Linked DNA regions of Homo sapiens: region 1 is linked to region 2. The links come from fine-mapping of genetic effects on gene expression. Tissue or cell type: whole blood. Region 2 holds a variant in brackets; the other region holds the start of a gene. All regions are shown on one strand. Distances are between the middles of the regions.

Region 1 (8,099 bases), 36 kb after region 2:
AGAACTGACTTGAAAAACAAAAAGCAAGAAGGGGTGAGAAAAGGCAAGAAGAAAGACCATATTAGAGAAACAGTCTGGGGGCCAGATTATAGATGGCCTTAGTACCTGGCCAATGAGTTCAGGCCAATGAGTCCCTAGAAGTCATCAGTGATTGAGCCTCCAGGTAGAGTGGACCTTCATGGGCAGAAGATGAGCTAGTCTAAGGGTGAGCAAAAATGATTGCCCTGGTGGCCACAGCTGAACATGAAGGATGAGCCCATCCAATGTCAAGGCTGCTGTCTGAGCATTCTTGCCCCAGTGAATGAAGATCACCCAATATAGTGCTATAATTCTCTATATTTTATGTGTTGTGCACTACTGGCCTGGTTTCCTCCAAAATCCATCACTGATTTTTCGGACTGGGAATACTGCCCTCTTTCCAAGTGCTAGGAGGACCCAGTGCTTAAAAAATAAAAAATCCCAATCAAAATGTTGCTGGAACTTCAAAGACAGATATAGCTAAACCCAGAGTTGGCTTGGCTCCAAAAGACACACAGGGAGTCCCACCAGCCCACCAGGCTCACAGGAGCTCACACAAGCATGCTATGGTGAGCACAGGGCAGGTACTGTGAGGCTCAGCATCTAAGCAAAAGATGGAATTGATTCAGGTAAACGGAGTCCAGGGTATCTTAGGCAAAGGTCATTCACATTTCCAGATTTTCAACAAAAACAAACAAGGCAATACTTATGCAATTTTAGACCAAGAAAAATGTCTGCTCTGGCAGAATGAACCTTGCTAACCTAAGGAGTGACCAAAGGAGTAATCACTCTTGGCTGGGCACTGTGACATTTTTGTGTTCCAAAGATGCCTGTTTATCTGGCTCAATACTTTCTTTTTTAAAGGTTAAACTTAACCATTCTCCCCATCGCTGTAACCAGCCCGACTATCAGTCTTTGCTGTAACTGTTACAGTGTCATCTTTGCTGCCCCAAGTCTTTCTTTCCTGTAAAGATTTCTTAACAAGGGTGCTTTTGGCCTTGGGAACCTCAGGCAGCACTCCAAGGAAATTTGTTTTAAAAGCAATGAGCCTGCGGTCACTCTGAGGGCAAAGCACTGACATGTCAGCCCCACCTCCCCATCTGGAAATGCAGTGGAGGGTTCATTCCTTAAGGTCAAGAAAACCAACACCACATACTTGATAATGGCCAGAGAGGCCCACACCTCAACCTCCACTTCAGTTCTTAAAATCCTCCTCTTCAGATCACTTTACCTTCCCCAAACAGGAGGACTGCAGGCTCTACTTGGCTGCTAAAATAATCTTCATCCCCAAAAGCAAAGATAAAATAATGAGGGCATATACTATAGAAATGGGTCTTTGGTAGTAACTTCAGGAAAACAGAAGCAACCAGCAAATAGAAGTTTAATATTTCCACAAGGCCAGTCTCTATTTGGTTCCTGAGAGCCATGGACTGGGAAGTCAAGAGATAAGTTGTCTAATCCCAGATCTAACACTAACTCGTTGGTAATGACTAACAAGTGATGGCCTTTCTGGGCCTTAATTTCTTCATCTATAAAATGATCGTGGTCCAGCTCTTGATTGCAGCTGTGAAATTCTGAGACAAGACCCAAAGAATCCTTTTAGAAAACTATGAATCCAAGGCTGCAGTAGGGTTGCAGCATCTTCCCTTCTTCTTCCTCAAAAAAAAAAAAAAAAAAAAAAAAGAACAGGAGCTATTATGCCCCTACCTCCCTAGCATTTACACCAGGCCCCACTGGGATCCATGCAGGAGGCCAGCTCTCTGTGGACACATAGCCAGAACCAAAGTAACCAGAAGCATCTGCGGTCTGTCTTTGTAGATGGTACTGGCTTGAACCACACAGCCATGTCCTACAGTATTCTATCACTCAAGTATGAATTTCAGTCTACTTCATCACTCCTACACCAAGTCCTCACTTCCAAAGTCAACTCCCCTGTGAAATGCTGACGGTCTCCTCATACTCTGGGAGAGCGGCGGAAACAGAACCTGCAGTTGCCCCATAAAGCTGGTCAGTCGGTCATAAAGTGAAGTTAACAATTTATGACCCGCTTTAAAAAAAAAAAAAAAACATAGAATGGGCCGGCGTGGTGGCTCTGGCGTGTAATCCCAGCACTCTGGCAGGCAGAAGCGGGTGGATCACTTGAGATCAGGAGTTTGAGACCAGCATGGCCAACATGGCGAAACACCGTCTCCACTAAAAATACAAAAATTAGTCAGGCTTGGTGGCGCCCCACCCCCGGCCCCCCGTAATCCCAGCTATTTCGGAGGCTGCGGCAGGAGAATCGCTTGAACCCAGGAGGCGGAGGCTGCAGTGAGCCGAGATCGCCTCATTGCACTCCAGCCTGGGTGACAGAGCGAGAATCCCTCTGGTGGGGGGTGGGGGGAGGGAATAGAATGGAAAATATCATTGTGCCTCACCCTGTAGAAAGAATAACTATACCATGAAGCTCTTGCTGCAATTTTACATGTGTATGTGTGTGTGCGTATATATGTATATATAATATTACACACATATTATGCATATATACATTATATACATATAGGTGGGTGGGTGTGGGTCTTGATCGAAAAAAGACCTAGAAACCCATACATAGGCCAGTGGCAGTGGGATGCGACTCTGGGAGTGAATGCCACACACACCTATCCCACCTCTACCCACCCCCCCACCCCCCGCAGAGGATGCAAAAGCCAACAAAGAGCATATGAACTCAAGCACCTATCCTGCAATCCTACAAAACAGACCTGCCTGGAAAACAGTTGAAACAAACTCCTGACCACCGTCCCCGCCCTCCAACACACACACACCGTAGTACTTTTTTTTTTTTTCTATAAAGGACCAAACAGGATGCCATCCGGATAACAGCCTTATATCAAAAAGGATCCTGGAACCCAAAACGCTCAGCACGAGGGAGCAGGAGCGCATACCTACGCTGGGAACACAAGGCTTTAATCCCAGCTATTCCTTCCCGCATAAGGACTAACTGAGCCAGCAGCAACTGGGTTGGAGCAGATAGGGGAACTAGAGACCTCAGAGCCCCATTCTCTTTCTGCTTCTTAAATTTTTTTTTCTTTTATTTTCCAAATTGCACACTTCCATAAAAATTTTCCTAGGAAGCACCAAAGCTTTCAACTGCCCAGAAACACCCCGATCTGGGAGAAAAGGTGGCTTGAGCTGCACCTCAAAGATGGGCTCTATCTCAGCCGGGTTGCAAGTGCACAGGGCTCCCCGCGGGACGGAGACAGGGAGTTGGGAGGAAACGCAACGCGCCTCCCAGGCAACAGACTCCGAGCTCCGGTTCGGAAACGCTCCGAGGCAGAAGCAAGGGCTTCTAAGGGCTCCGCTTCCCAGCCTTGGGTCCCTACTACTACCTTCCCCCTAGACTCGGTGAGCCCAGGCTGATGGACCGTGCAGTCCAGTTTGAGCCAGCCCAGCAGCCCTCAATCGGGCGGGCAGGGAAGAAGGCCTCCTACTGCCGGGAAGAGGCCAGCGCGCTCCAAGTTCCCCGCAAATTCCGCCCTTCCCGCCTGGCACGGTTCCCTTGCACCGCTGTGCTCCGCTCCCAGGTTTCTGCCCGCCAAGAATGCTTGCCCCGGGGGCGCGCTCGCTGGTCAGGAACCTGTCGGCAGCCCCCGGGAACCCCTGAGGATGCGGAGGTGGGCCCGAGAGCTGCGGCTTCGATGCCGGGGTGGGAGCTAGGCAGGCCGCGCGCCGCCGCAGTCCTGTCGCAGCGCGTGCCCTGGTCCCTCCGGACCGAAAAGGCCGAAGCCGTCCCCCGCGACCGACCCCGCGCAACTGGCTCGGGTCTGCACCTAGATGGCTGTGGGCCCCACAGGGATGGCCGGGCGGGCCCGTTCGGCCGCTACCTCAGGGTCGCCAGTCCCCGCGCGCGGCCGCCTCCCGCCAGGAAGGGTGGCGGGCCCGGAAGGCCAGAGATGCCCCAGTGCTTCCCGCGCCGCTACGCACCTAGCTGCCCGCGGGTCCCACATGGCTGCGGCCGGAGGGTCCGCACCAGGACCGCCGCCGCCTGGGGAAGCGCTTCCCTGTGGGCAGGGCGCGGCGGGCAGTGCGGAAGCCCGAAAGCTACCGGAGCCCGGGGCAGGGGCGGCGCGATGCAGAGGCGGCGTTCGGGGGCCCCCAGCTGCCTGCGGCTCGGCTACCCAGCCGCGATCAGAGGGGGCGGGGGACGCAGGAACCCCGGCGTCCGGGCGGTGTGCAGCCGCAGACCTATTCCAAGTTTCCACGTAGTTGCGAGAGCCCAAAAACTGTCACGTGCACGTCGCTGCTGAGTGGGAGGAGGTGTTTGTCATCGCGTTCAAAAGGGGCGTTTCGGTGTCTCCCGTCATGCAAGCAAATGGTATGGCTCTCGGCCGCCTTTGAATAAACGAGTGCTTCGAACCCTTTACCAGGAGGGACTAGGCGCACAACCACCTCCGACACTCCTCGGGCATGCGAGAATTCGGCTTTCCTTAGTGGGGCCCATCAATGTTGTCCGGGAGGTAAAGAAAGTGATCGGCCAACGGCCTCAGCGTGGGTTTTCTCCTTCCCTCGTTCCTCCCTCCAACAAAGGACGTACGGAGAACAAGCCCCCTAGCTCCTACAGATGAGGAGCTCAGGAGTCGGGCGAATATCAAGTACTTACTGTGTGCTTGCCCCTCCACTCTGGGGAGGCTGGGGGTCCGGGAGTGAAGGGGGCAGCGAGACCGCGGGCTGCTCCACGCTCACCGTCGTGTCCATGGAGAGTAAGTGCGCACAGGCCTGAGCAGGCAACAAAATGAGGATCTTGCCTTGTCTTTCCACCTCCCCAGTGATGATCGACAGAGTAGTGGGTCGGAGAGGACCACCTCTGGCTGCTACCTCCCCAGCGGTTCTCGGCCTAGGGAGCCGGTTTGGTCTTCACAGCTTCTCTGGGCCTGGGAGTACTTTCCTACACACCAGAGAATCCACCCAATCAGAGAGCTAAGCCCGCCGCCCTCCCCTGGGGCAAGGTTCGGCCTACACTGCATCCCGGTGGTTCGCCCATCCTTCTGGGGGACCACCACACCAGGCTGCCTGGTGGCAGGGAGGACACCACCAGAGCTTTAGTGAGGGGGACCACACATTTCAGCGAAACAGAGAGGCTTTGGTAACACGTGGACACACCTAAGGCACACAGTATACTTCTCTCCACTGGTCATTCTGCGTTGTGAACTAGTCTCAGTCTAGCTAGTGGTCTCCTTGCTTCTAGAATCTCACAGAGATTTCTGTGCATTGATCTTCCCCAAACATCAGGATGAATCACGTACAGTTCAAAAGCCATCAGTGGCACTCCATTGTCTCCTAGAGATCAGGTTAGGTACCCGGGCATTTGAGATTCTTCTTCACAATCTTGCCCCACATTTCCAATCTTAGCTTCCTCATGCAAACTCTATACTGCAGTGCTTCCCAACCTTAGTTACACAATAGAATCACCTGGGGAGCTTAAAAACAAAAACAAGGCCGGGCGGGTGGCTCACACCCGTAATCCCAGCACTTTGGAAGCCTGAGGCAGGCGGATCACCTGAGGTCGGGAGTTTGAGACCAGCCAGACCAACATGGAGAAACCCCATCTCTACTAAAAATACAAAAAAAAAAAAAAAAACCCAAAAATATGCGTATGTTTGGCTTTTACTCCCAAATTGTCTAATTGACATGGGCGTCAGGAATTTTTGTTTTTGTTTTTGTTTTGAGACAGTCTCACTCTGTTGTTCAGGTGATTCTCCTGCCTCAGCCTCCTGAGTAACTGGGATTACAGGTGCCCGCCGCCTTGCCCGGCTGAATTTTTTAGATTTTTAGTAGAGGCGGGGTTTCACCATGTTAGACAGGCTGGTCTCAAACCCATGACCTCAAGTGATCCACCCACTTAGGCTTCCCCAAGTGCTGGAATTATAGGTGCAAGCCACCACACCCAGCCACATCAGGATTTTTAAAAGACTATAACATGCTGCAAAGTTTGAGAATCACTGCTAGCCACCAAATAGTTGGACTACTTGCTATTTCCCAGACATCATTGGTCCTTTCACTTTTAGGATACTTTCCATATCCTTCCTCCAATACTTTTCCCAACATCCCCCAATTCTATATTTAGGAAAGCACATGCCACCTCTTCTAGCATACCTCTTTCTGTTGGTGATTTTTGGGTTTGTTCAGTTTGGGTTTTGGTTTGGTTTGGTTTTGGTTTGGGGTTTTTTGGTTGCGGGGTATTTTTTGGTTTCGGAGATATTTTTGGTTTTGGGGTTTTTTGTTTTTCTTTTTGTTTTGGGGGGTTATTTTGTTTTGTTGTTGTTGTTGTTGTTATTTTTGCCAACTTCAAGGAGTCTACTTCCAGAAAGCCTAGCCAGGTTCTTACATCAAAGAGAGCAAGCCAAGGGATTGGTGAAGAGAGGAGGATTTAAAAAAACCAAAAAGTCCGTTTACACTTTGACCACTCTTTCACTAGTTTTCATAAGCATCTCAAAATCTTGTTGTCATACATCTTCTTTGGATATCTTCACCATAATCCTCAAAAGTCACGTCAGTATGTTATCTTTCTTTTTAAAACTGTTTCTTCTCTGTCTTCTATTTTTATATTTTTATCAGTTATACATTCACAGTTAAAAGAGCAGGCCTCAGCCAGGCGTGGTGGCTCATGCCTGTAATCCCAGTATTTTGGGAGTCCCAGGTAAGCAGATCCCCTGAGTCAGGAGTTCAAGACCAGCCTGACCACCATGGTAAAACCCCATTTCTACTAAAAATACAAAAATTAGCTGGGCATGGTGGCGCATGCCTGTAATCCCAGCTACTCTGGAGACTGAGGCAGGAGAATCGCTTGAACCTGGGAGGTGGAGGTTGCAGTGAGCCGAGATCATGCCACTGCACTCCAGCCTGGGTAACAGAGCGAGACTCCATCTCAATAAACAATCATAAAAATAAAATAAAAAATAAATAAATAAAAAGAGCAGGCCCCTTTTTCCCTTCCACCTGACTTCTTCCCTAGAAACAACCACTTTTACATCTTTCAGCTGATTATTTTGATGCCTATGCTCATGTCTCTAAATAACGTTTGTATTGCTACTTCTTGTTGTTGGGGCTTTTTTCCCCTCAGTTTTATGCATGATCAGGTAAAATTTTTGAGACTGTGCTTGTCTGAAAACCTTTATCCTTAATATAGTTTGGCTGGGTATAAAATTATCAGCTAGAAATCATTTTCTACCGGGCGTGGTGGCTCACACCTGTAATCCCAGCACTTTGGGAAGCTGAGACAGGCAGATCACCTGAGGTCAGGAGTTCAAGACCAGCTTGGCCAACATGGTGAAAACCTGTCTCTACCAAAAATACAAAAATTAGCCAGTCGTGGTGGTGGGCACTTGTAATCTCAGCTACTCCGGAGGCTGAGGCAGGAGAATCACTTGAACCCAGGAGGTGGAGGCTGCAGTGAGCCAAGATCATGCCACTGCACTCCAGCCTCAGCAACAGAGGGAGACTTTGTCTCAACAAAAAAAAAATAGAAATCATTTTCCTTCAGAATTCTGAAGCTATTACTTCAGTGACTTCTAGCTTCCAGTACTGCTGTTGGGAATTCTGAAAACATTCAATCATCAATCTTATCTATTTATTTAGAGACAGAGTCTCGCTCTGTCACCCAGGCTGGAGTGCAATGGTGCAGTCTCAGTTCACTACAACCTCTGCCTCCTGGGTTCAAGCATCAGTCATCAATCTTTTTATAGGACCTCTTCTTTTTTAAATCTCTGGAAGCATGAAGAATCTTCTTTTCCTCCCCAGTGTTTTGAAATTACACAATGATCTGCTTTGATGTGGGCCCATTCATTGATTCCACTGGGTACTGCGTGGGTTATTTCAGTCTCAACACTCAAGCTCTTCAGTCTGGGAAAATATCTTGAATTATTTTATTGATTTTTTTTTTCCATTTTCTTTCTCTCCCTCTCTCTTTTTAATCCTATTATTCAGGATATTGAACTTCCAGGACTGATCTCTGTGATACAGTTGCTTAATTTTCAAATCACTTCTCTCCTGTTTTCCATCTTTTTTTTTGTTTTGTTTTTGTTTTTGTTTTTGTTTTTGTTTTG
Region 2 (8,104 bases):
TGGCCAACATGGTGAAACCCCATCTCTACTAAAATACAAAAAAATTATCTGGGTGTGGTGGGGTGCACCTGTAGTCCCAGCTACATGGCAGGCTGAGGCAGGAGAATCGTTTGAACCCAGGAGGAGGAGATTTCAGTGAGCCAAGATCGCACCACTGCACTCCAGCCTGGCAACACAGCAAGACTCCGTCTCAAAAAAAGAAAAAAAAAAATCTTAATCGTAAAAATAATACAAATCACTGTAGAATAATACAAAAATCACTGTAGATAATGCAGACAAGCACAAAAATATTAATAAACAAAGGAAAAATCACCTCCATTACTGTCCCCACCCTCGATGTTTTGTGTCTGGCTTCTTTCATGGCCCAACATTCCCTCTAGGTGAAGGGATGAGGCCCCAGAAGCACACAGGAGGCAGTGGGGTCAGGCAGTGAGGGATCAGCAAGGGAGCAGTGACCGCAAGTGTAAGAGATGCCATGGTGTCCATCCCAGACACTCTGGCCAGTGCAGCCATTCCCAGCTGCAATGTCTGTTGGCTGCAGCTAGAGGTTCTCAGCACCCTGTTCTCCAGAGATTTATCCTCAGCCTAATGAGAGCTACCCTCTCCCCAGGAAGTTACACCCATACTAGGGACTGAACTTCCCCCATCCCCAACTGCCAAAAAAAAAAAAATCCCTGGGTAGGCCGGGCACAGTGGCTCATGCCTGTAATCCCAGCACTTTAGGAGGCCGAGCGGGCGGATCACGAGGTCAGGAGATCGAGACCATCCCGGCTAACACGGTGAAACCCCATCTCTACTAAAAATACAAAAAATTAGCCGGGCGTGGTGGCAGGTGCCTGTAGTCCCAGCTACTCGGGAGGCTGAGGCAGGAGAATGGCGTGAACCCGGGAGGCGGCGGAGCTTGCAGTGAGCCGAGATCGTGCCGTTGCACTCTAGCCTGGGAGACAGAGCAAGACTCTGTCTCAAAAAAAAAAAAAAAAATCCCTGGGTTGAAGCCCTACCCCTCAATGTGACAATATTTGAACATGGAACCATTGGGAGGTAATTATGTTTAGCTGAGGTCATGAGGGTGGAGTCCTCACAATGGAATAAGAAGAGACGCTGGAGAGCTTGCTCTCTCCTCTTTGCACGTAACACAGTGAGAAGGCAACCATCTACAAGCCAGGAAGACAGCCCTCACAGGGGGCAGCTTGATCTTGGACTTCCCAGCCTGTAGAACTTTGAAAAATAAATTTCTGTTGTTTAAGCCACCCAGTCTGTGCTATTTTGTTATGGTAGCGCAAGCAGACTAATATAGCCCACTCCCTAGGATGACTGCCGGGAGCCAGACAGCCTAAAACCAGTGACTGACTGATATGAGAATCAAAAGGTTAACCTCCTTGCCTCAAGATGGAACCAGCTCTGCAGTATGATTCATGCTCCAGAGCTGCCTATGGGATCAGGCAAATCTTGCTTGGTTTAGACACCATCCCTGCTTAGAGCCTTCCTTGTGCCATCCTGCCTCCCTCAGTCCCCTTTCTCCTGCAAGTACGCTGTAAATCACATGCACCTGAGTCTCAGTGTTAGCTAGCTGTGGCAGGAAGGCCAGCAGCAGGTGATGGGCAAGGGGAACAGTGTCAGGAAGGTCCCACAAAAGGCAACATGAGGGTCCAGGCAGAAGTCCCAGTAGGGGTCACACAGTAAGTGGTGGAGCTGAGCTTTGAACACACATAGTGTGGGGTCAGTCTACAACCATAAACACTACACAATACTACCTCTTTCTAAGAAAGCTGAATGTTTGCCTTGATCGAGGATCTCTAGACCCAGCTCTGACACAATTCTGATATGTACCAGGACAAGGCAGAACTGCAGAAACTACAGACACAAGCTAATTACACTCAACTCAACCTCAACTAGAGTGTAGACATCAAGGAGATGGGAGGGGGAGGTGGAGCCGTGTTTCAGTAATTTAATTTGGTGCCATTTCCTAGCACAAGTTTAGGTTGTGTGCACCCTACAGATGCCAACATCTGCTCGCTCTACTGCAGCTGTTCCAAAAGGATGATCTGGGAACTTCTGGGGACCCTCAAGGCCACTGCAGGTGATCCACAAGGTGAAAATACTTTCACAGTTGTGGTAAGCTGAATAATGGCCCCCAAATACTGTTCTTTTTATGGAAAAAGACAAACTTTTGTGATTAACAAATGATGTAGCAGATGTGATCAATTTAAGGATTTTAGGAATAGGAGATTATCCTGAATTATGATAAAATCACAAGGGTCCCTATGATCGAGAGAGACAGAGGGAGACAGAAGCACAGCTGAGGAGAAGGCAAGGTGATGACAGAAGCAGAGATTGGAATGATAAGCTTTGAAGATAAAGGAAGGAGCCACAAGCCAAAGAATACACACCGCCACTCAAAGCTGAGAAAGGCAAGGAAGTGCCTTCTCCCCCTCAGAGCCTCCACAAAGAACCAGCCCTGCTAACACCTTGATTTTAGCCCCATTAGACTCATTTAGAACTTCTGATCTTCAGAATTGCAAGAGAAAAAATTTGTATTGCTTTAAGCCCTAAATTGGTGGTAACTTGCTACAGCAGCAACAGGAAACTAATACAATAATTAAGACATAATGTGCCTTGTTCATACTCATTCCCTCACACTCACACAGGGAGTTTTCCAGAAGCCATATGACATGTGATATTGCAACAGACTGAATACAGATGTAAGAAGCCAGCTGTCTTCTGTGGAGACAAGACATTAAGAAGGAGATTTACAAAAATGTACAAGTTTTTGTTTTGGAAAATATACTTTAAAAATACAACATGTAATAGATTTACTGATATATTTATTTATTTATTTTTGAGACAGAGTTTCACTCTTGTCACCGAGGCCAGAGTTCAATGGCACGATCTCGGCTCGCTGTAACATCTGCCTCCCACGATCAAGCGATTCTCCTGCCTCAGCCTCCCAAGTAGCTGGGATTACAGGCGTGCGCCACTACGCCCAGCTAATTTTGTATTTTTAGTAGAGATGGGGTTTCACCATGTTGGCCAGGCTGGTCTTGAACTCCTGAAGTCAGGTGATCTGACCGCCTCGGCCTCCCAAAGTGCTGGGATTACAGGTTTGAGCCACTCTACCCAGCAAATTTATTGATTTTTTTTTTTTTTTTTTTTTTTGAGACGGAGTCTGGCTCTGTCGCCCAGGATGGAGTGCAGTGGCGTAATCTCGGCTCACTGCAAGCTCCACCTCCCGGGTTCACGCTATTCTCCTGCCTCACCCTCCGGAGTAGCTGGGACTACAGGTGCCCACCACCACACCCGGCTAATCTGTTGTATTTTTAATAGAGATGGGGTTTCACCCTGTTAGCCAGGATGGTCTCGATCTCCTGACCTCGTGATCTGCCCACCTCGGCCTCCCAAAGTGCTGGGATTACAGGCATGAGCCACCGCACCCGGCCAATATTTTTAAATAAATACATATTTTATTTTTTTATCAGTTTTAAGTTCTACCATACTGTATTGACAGCTACAGCCTACATAAACAGAAGAAGCTCTTTAGGGTCCTCAGCAATGTTTAAGCATGTTGTGATACTACAATGTTTGAGAACAGGTCTGTAAGAAGCTGAAGGGGCAAGGAAAGAGAAAGTGAACCTTAGTGCCCGGCGGGGTGTGCGCTGTGGCCACGGAGTAAATGGCATAGATAATAAAGAAGATGAAATGAATGACAACGAAGAGGTTTGTTCGAAGACTTCAGCCATCCCATTAAATCTGACCCCTAGCCAGCCAGAACGGGAAGTTTTGTTATGTTTATCAACAGTCCTCTATGTTTCACTTTCTATTTCCCTTCTTACACAATCCCTGTTCACTTCTAAGCTGACAATGCAGAGAAGATAAATAGGAAGTGAGCAATAAAGAAAACAGAAACAGGGTGGAATGATAAGAAATGAAAAGAAATCATAAGGAACAGAGTCCCATGTACTGAAAAAGAAAAGATGAGGTGAAAATGCAAACACTTACCCCCACTGGTATAACTGCAGGAGAATCTGGATGGCTTCATCGTACTTTCTGATGGCCAAAGAGAAGTTCCCATTCTTAAGAACCTGGTTGCCGGATTCTTTCAGCAGCTCAGCGTAAGCTGTCAGGTCCATCCTGTGAGGAGACGGGG[G/T]AGACGCTTGCTGCCAGACCCGTGCAGGGCATGTTCACCTTCCGGTCTGCATTGCTGAAATCTGGAGAAGGAGTTCGCTCACTATGGCCCCACCCACCTTCAAAGGGCACATCTTGGCAACACCTCTCACCACCAGGAAACCAGGCAGAGTGTCTGACAAGACTATTTCTTTGTCAGTTCTTTTCTGTTCTCAAGGGTGGCCAGACCAATTCCATTTATTCAGCATTAATGATCTGGAGGAGGCTGCTTCCATGCATGAGACAACATAAACCTGGCAGGTAGTGAGTGCTATCCCTGTAACTGGCATTATTATTAATCTCATTTACCCATCATCACAGCCCACAGGAAGGCATTGTCCCCACTGTTCAGATGAGGAAACTGAGGCTCAGAGGTTCAAGTCACTTGCCTAAAAATCTGCTGATGGCATTTCCCATTTCTGACCCCAGATCTGACCAATTTCTAGTTTCTGCTCTTGACCACTGTACCACATCACGTATTGGTAAAAACTCAGCTGATAGTACTTCCACTCTCTTAGCAGATGGAACAGGGAGGGCAGGTGAAGGCCTCAGTATGCAAGTGGCTAGGACACAGAGACACAACCACTGTCTCTCCTGTCCCCCTCCTTTCTTAAAACACTATAAAATAAGCCTTGAAATATTTGTCCCTGAGACAGCCATTGCCTGCCTACTTGTCTGTGTCCCCCAAGGGTATTTGCCTCTTTCAGGTCAAACCCCTATTTTGTTAAGTTTTGTAGCCGTATGGCCTTGAACATAAGGGGTACTTAAATATCTGTGGTGTAACAATTGAATGCCAGACCCAGAGAAGACGCACATTACTGATTTTCTCCAGTGTGGCCTGGGTGGTTGGAGAGAACTGCCTGGCAGCCCTGACCACATGGGGGGCCTTGGTAAGTGTGCTGAACAAAGGCAGGAGAGGAGAGCACCCAGGAAGATCTTAAGAAGCAGCTGCCAAGGAGACAGGGAAAAGGTGGGGGTCAGAGAAGAGGTCCTTTAGTATTGCTTCCTCTCAAGATGGCAGAGGGAAAGGCAAATTGGTAGGGTAGGGTAGGTCTTAAATATGTGGACAGTTTCAGGTGTTCACAGATGACATGTACCTATGGGGTCATAAAATTTCTTAGGTGTCTTGATGACCAACACAATTCTTGGAGAGACAGTAATTATTAATTTTATCATTTTAAATCCAAGTAAGGGGTCAGAGGGGGAAACAGACCCAAGCACACATAAGTGGTGATTTATTTTAAACAATTTGACTTCTTGGGAATGGGGTTTTTGAACTGTACTCCACTTCTTAAGCAGAGCTTTAACAGAATGAGACACATGACTCTTAAGTCAGAATACTGAACTCTACCTATGCTTTTCATGTAGTAATCTCTAAATTATATGACTACTATTTACACAGAGATGACTAAGAAGAACATGAAAAAATGTAAAGAGCTATGTACTAGGGAATAAAGTATGCTTTTCTTTCAAATATTGTCGGCCATTTGTCCAATAAATATTCTTTAAGCTGGCCATGGTCAAACAACTGAAACAAGAAAATTGTTGCAATAACTGACAAAGAGTTCATATCCCTCCGTTATAAATAGCTTTCCACTGCAAGAAAAGACCAACATTCTCACCAAAATGTATAAGGGTCCTAAGAAACAATTCACAAAGAAACACCAAGTAATTGCTACTAAATATATGAAAAGTGGGTAAATAGGATCACCCTCACTAGTGCATAAGTAAATCAAAAATTGAACAACAAAATATCATTGGAAAATAATTAAAAGAATGACACGAAATGTTGGGGACACTGCTTACAGAGGAAATAGAATACATCATAAATAGGTTTAGCCTCATGGATGTTCACCACCTCGAAAACTTGGAAATAACTCTAAATGTTCCATAATATATAATGGGTTTAAATCAGTTATAGAAGATCCGTATGTTAGAACAACACACAGTTATTTTTAAAATCATGTTGTGGCTGGGCACAGTGGCTCACACCTGTAATCCCAGCACTTTGGGAGGCTGAGGCGGGCAGACCACCTGAGGTCAGGAGTTCGAGTCCAGCCTGGCCAACATGATGAAACGCCATGTCTTCTAAAAATACAAAAATCAGACAGGTGCGGTGGCACGCACCTGTAATCCCAGCTACTCGGGAGGCTGAGGCAGGAGAATCGCTTGAACCCAGGAGGGAGAGGTTGCAGTGAGCCAAGATCACACCACTACACTCCAGCCTGGGTGACAGAGTGAGACTCTATCTCCAAAAAATAAAATAAAATAAAATAAAATCATGTTGCAAAAGACCCAGTGCGCTGGCTCATGCCTGTAATCCCAGCACTTTAGGAGGCTGATCAGCTGAGGCGGGCGGATCACCTGAGGCCAGGAGTTCGAGACCAGCCCGGCCAACATGGTGAAACCCCGTCTTTACTAAAACTGCAGAAATTAGCCAGGCATAGTGGTGAGCACCTGTAATCGCAGCTTCTTGGGAGACTGAGGCAGGAGAATTGCTTGAACCCGGAAGGCAGAGGTTGCAGTGAGCCAAGATCACGCCACTGCACTCCAGCCTGGGTGACAAGCGCTAACTCCATCTGGAAAAAAAAAAATCGTGTTGTAAAAGAACATTTAATGACAGAGCAAGTTAGTAAATGAAAAATACAGGCCTATACGGTTGAAAAGGCATATTGTAAAAGAACATTTAATGACAGAGCAAGTTAGTAAATGAAAAATATAGGCCTATAAGGTTGAAAAGGCATATAATCCCAAATTGTTTTAAATACATAAAATGTATTGAAAATATGCCAAAATGTTAAAAGCCACGCCTTTGGGATTTGACAGAATTTTAATTTTCTTCCTTGATTTTCTGAATTTCCAATCACTCTACGATGTACCCTCTTACTAATCAGACCATAAATGTTATCAAACAGACTCTTTAAGGGTTTAACTGAAGAATTCAAACACAAGGTATTTCCATTGTATTTACAAATACAAAAAAAAAACTCTTCATTTCAATATTATTTTTCATAGTTCTCTAGAAACCAAGTCAGCTCTTAATGTTATGTGAGCAACAACAAATGTATTCACCCACCTATGTTTCTGCTTTTTATTGATACAATCACATCAAAGGTGAAAGAAGGAATGCCAACCATACAGAAGGCTTTTTTCTTCCTAATAGGATTCATTGAGAGTTACATTCTCATTACACGGAAGAATGCTTTATATCTCTACAATAGAATACAGATGGCTCCGTTGTTGGGTCTTTAAAAAAAAGAAAAAACTGACCAACTGATGATTTATTTATAAGATGAAATTATTAAATAAAAGTGGTAATAATTTACCATAATGACAATATTCTTCATAGCTAATATCTGCTAAGTACCTACTATGTGCTTTACATCATTGTGTCTTTTCATTCTTATAAGAAGCCTCGGCCAGGCACAGTGGCTCACGCCTGTAAACCCAACATTTTGGGAGGCCGAAGCAGGCAGATTAGCTGAGGTCAGGAGTTCGAGACCAGCCTGGCCAACATGGTGAAACCCCCATCTCTACTAAAAATATACAAAAATTAGCCAGGCATGGTAGTGCATGCCTATAGCCCCAGCTACTCAGGAAGCTGAGGCACGAGAATCACTTAAGCCCAGGAGATGCAGGTTGTAGTGAGCTGAGATCAAGCCACTGCATTCCAGCCTGGGCAACAGAGTGAGACTCTGTCAAAAAAAAAAAAAAGTGCTATAAGGTCAGCGTGACTCTATCTCTATTTTGCACATAAGGAAAGTGAAGCAAAGACAGGTTAAGCCACTTACCACTTGCCACAGTCACACTGAAATTGGTAATGTGAGAATTCCAACCTAGGTGGCCTCACTTTAAGAGCCAAACTACACTCTGAAGGGCCAAGACAGAGGCTAAAAGATCAGCACCCAGTAAAATCACTAGGGTATCTTATATTTTGGCTGGC

Evidence for each region. PIP is the estimated chance that this variant, and not a neighbour inherited with it, causes the effect.
Region 1: TRANK1 starts here. The variant in region 2 is fine-mapped to the expression of TRANK1 in whole blood (TOPMed, PIP above 0.99).

What each region holds. Positions count from the first base shown.
Region 1 is chr3:36,940,806-36,948,904 of GRCh38, forward strand. It overlaps TRANK1 (tetratricopeptide repeat and ankyrin repeat containing 1), which reads right to left and starts at 4,249. Exons shown (of 24, transcript NM_001329998.2): 1 at 3,982-4,249. The coding sequence starts at 4,004. RefSeq lists a silencer at 3,897-4,116 and an enhancer at 4,347-4,416.
Region 2 is chr3:36,904,327-36,912,430 of GRCh38, forward strand. TRANK1 (tetratricopeptide repeat and ankyrin repeat containing 1) reads right to left here. Exons shown (of 24, transcript NM_001329998.2): 2 at 3,997-4,128. Among named protein-coding and RNA genes, the nearest start is that of TRANK1, 37 kb to the right of the region's middle. RefSeq lists enhancers at 3,568-3,617, 3,638-3,957, 3,968-4,117 and a silencer at 6,287-6,455. The variant G/T (reference allele first, on the strand shown) is at 4,145.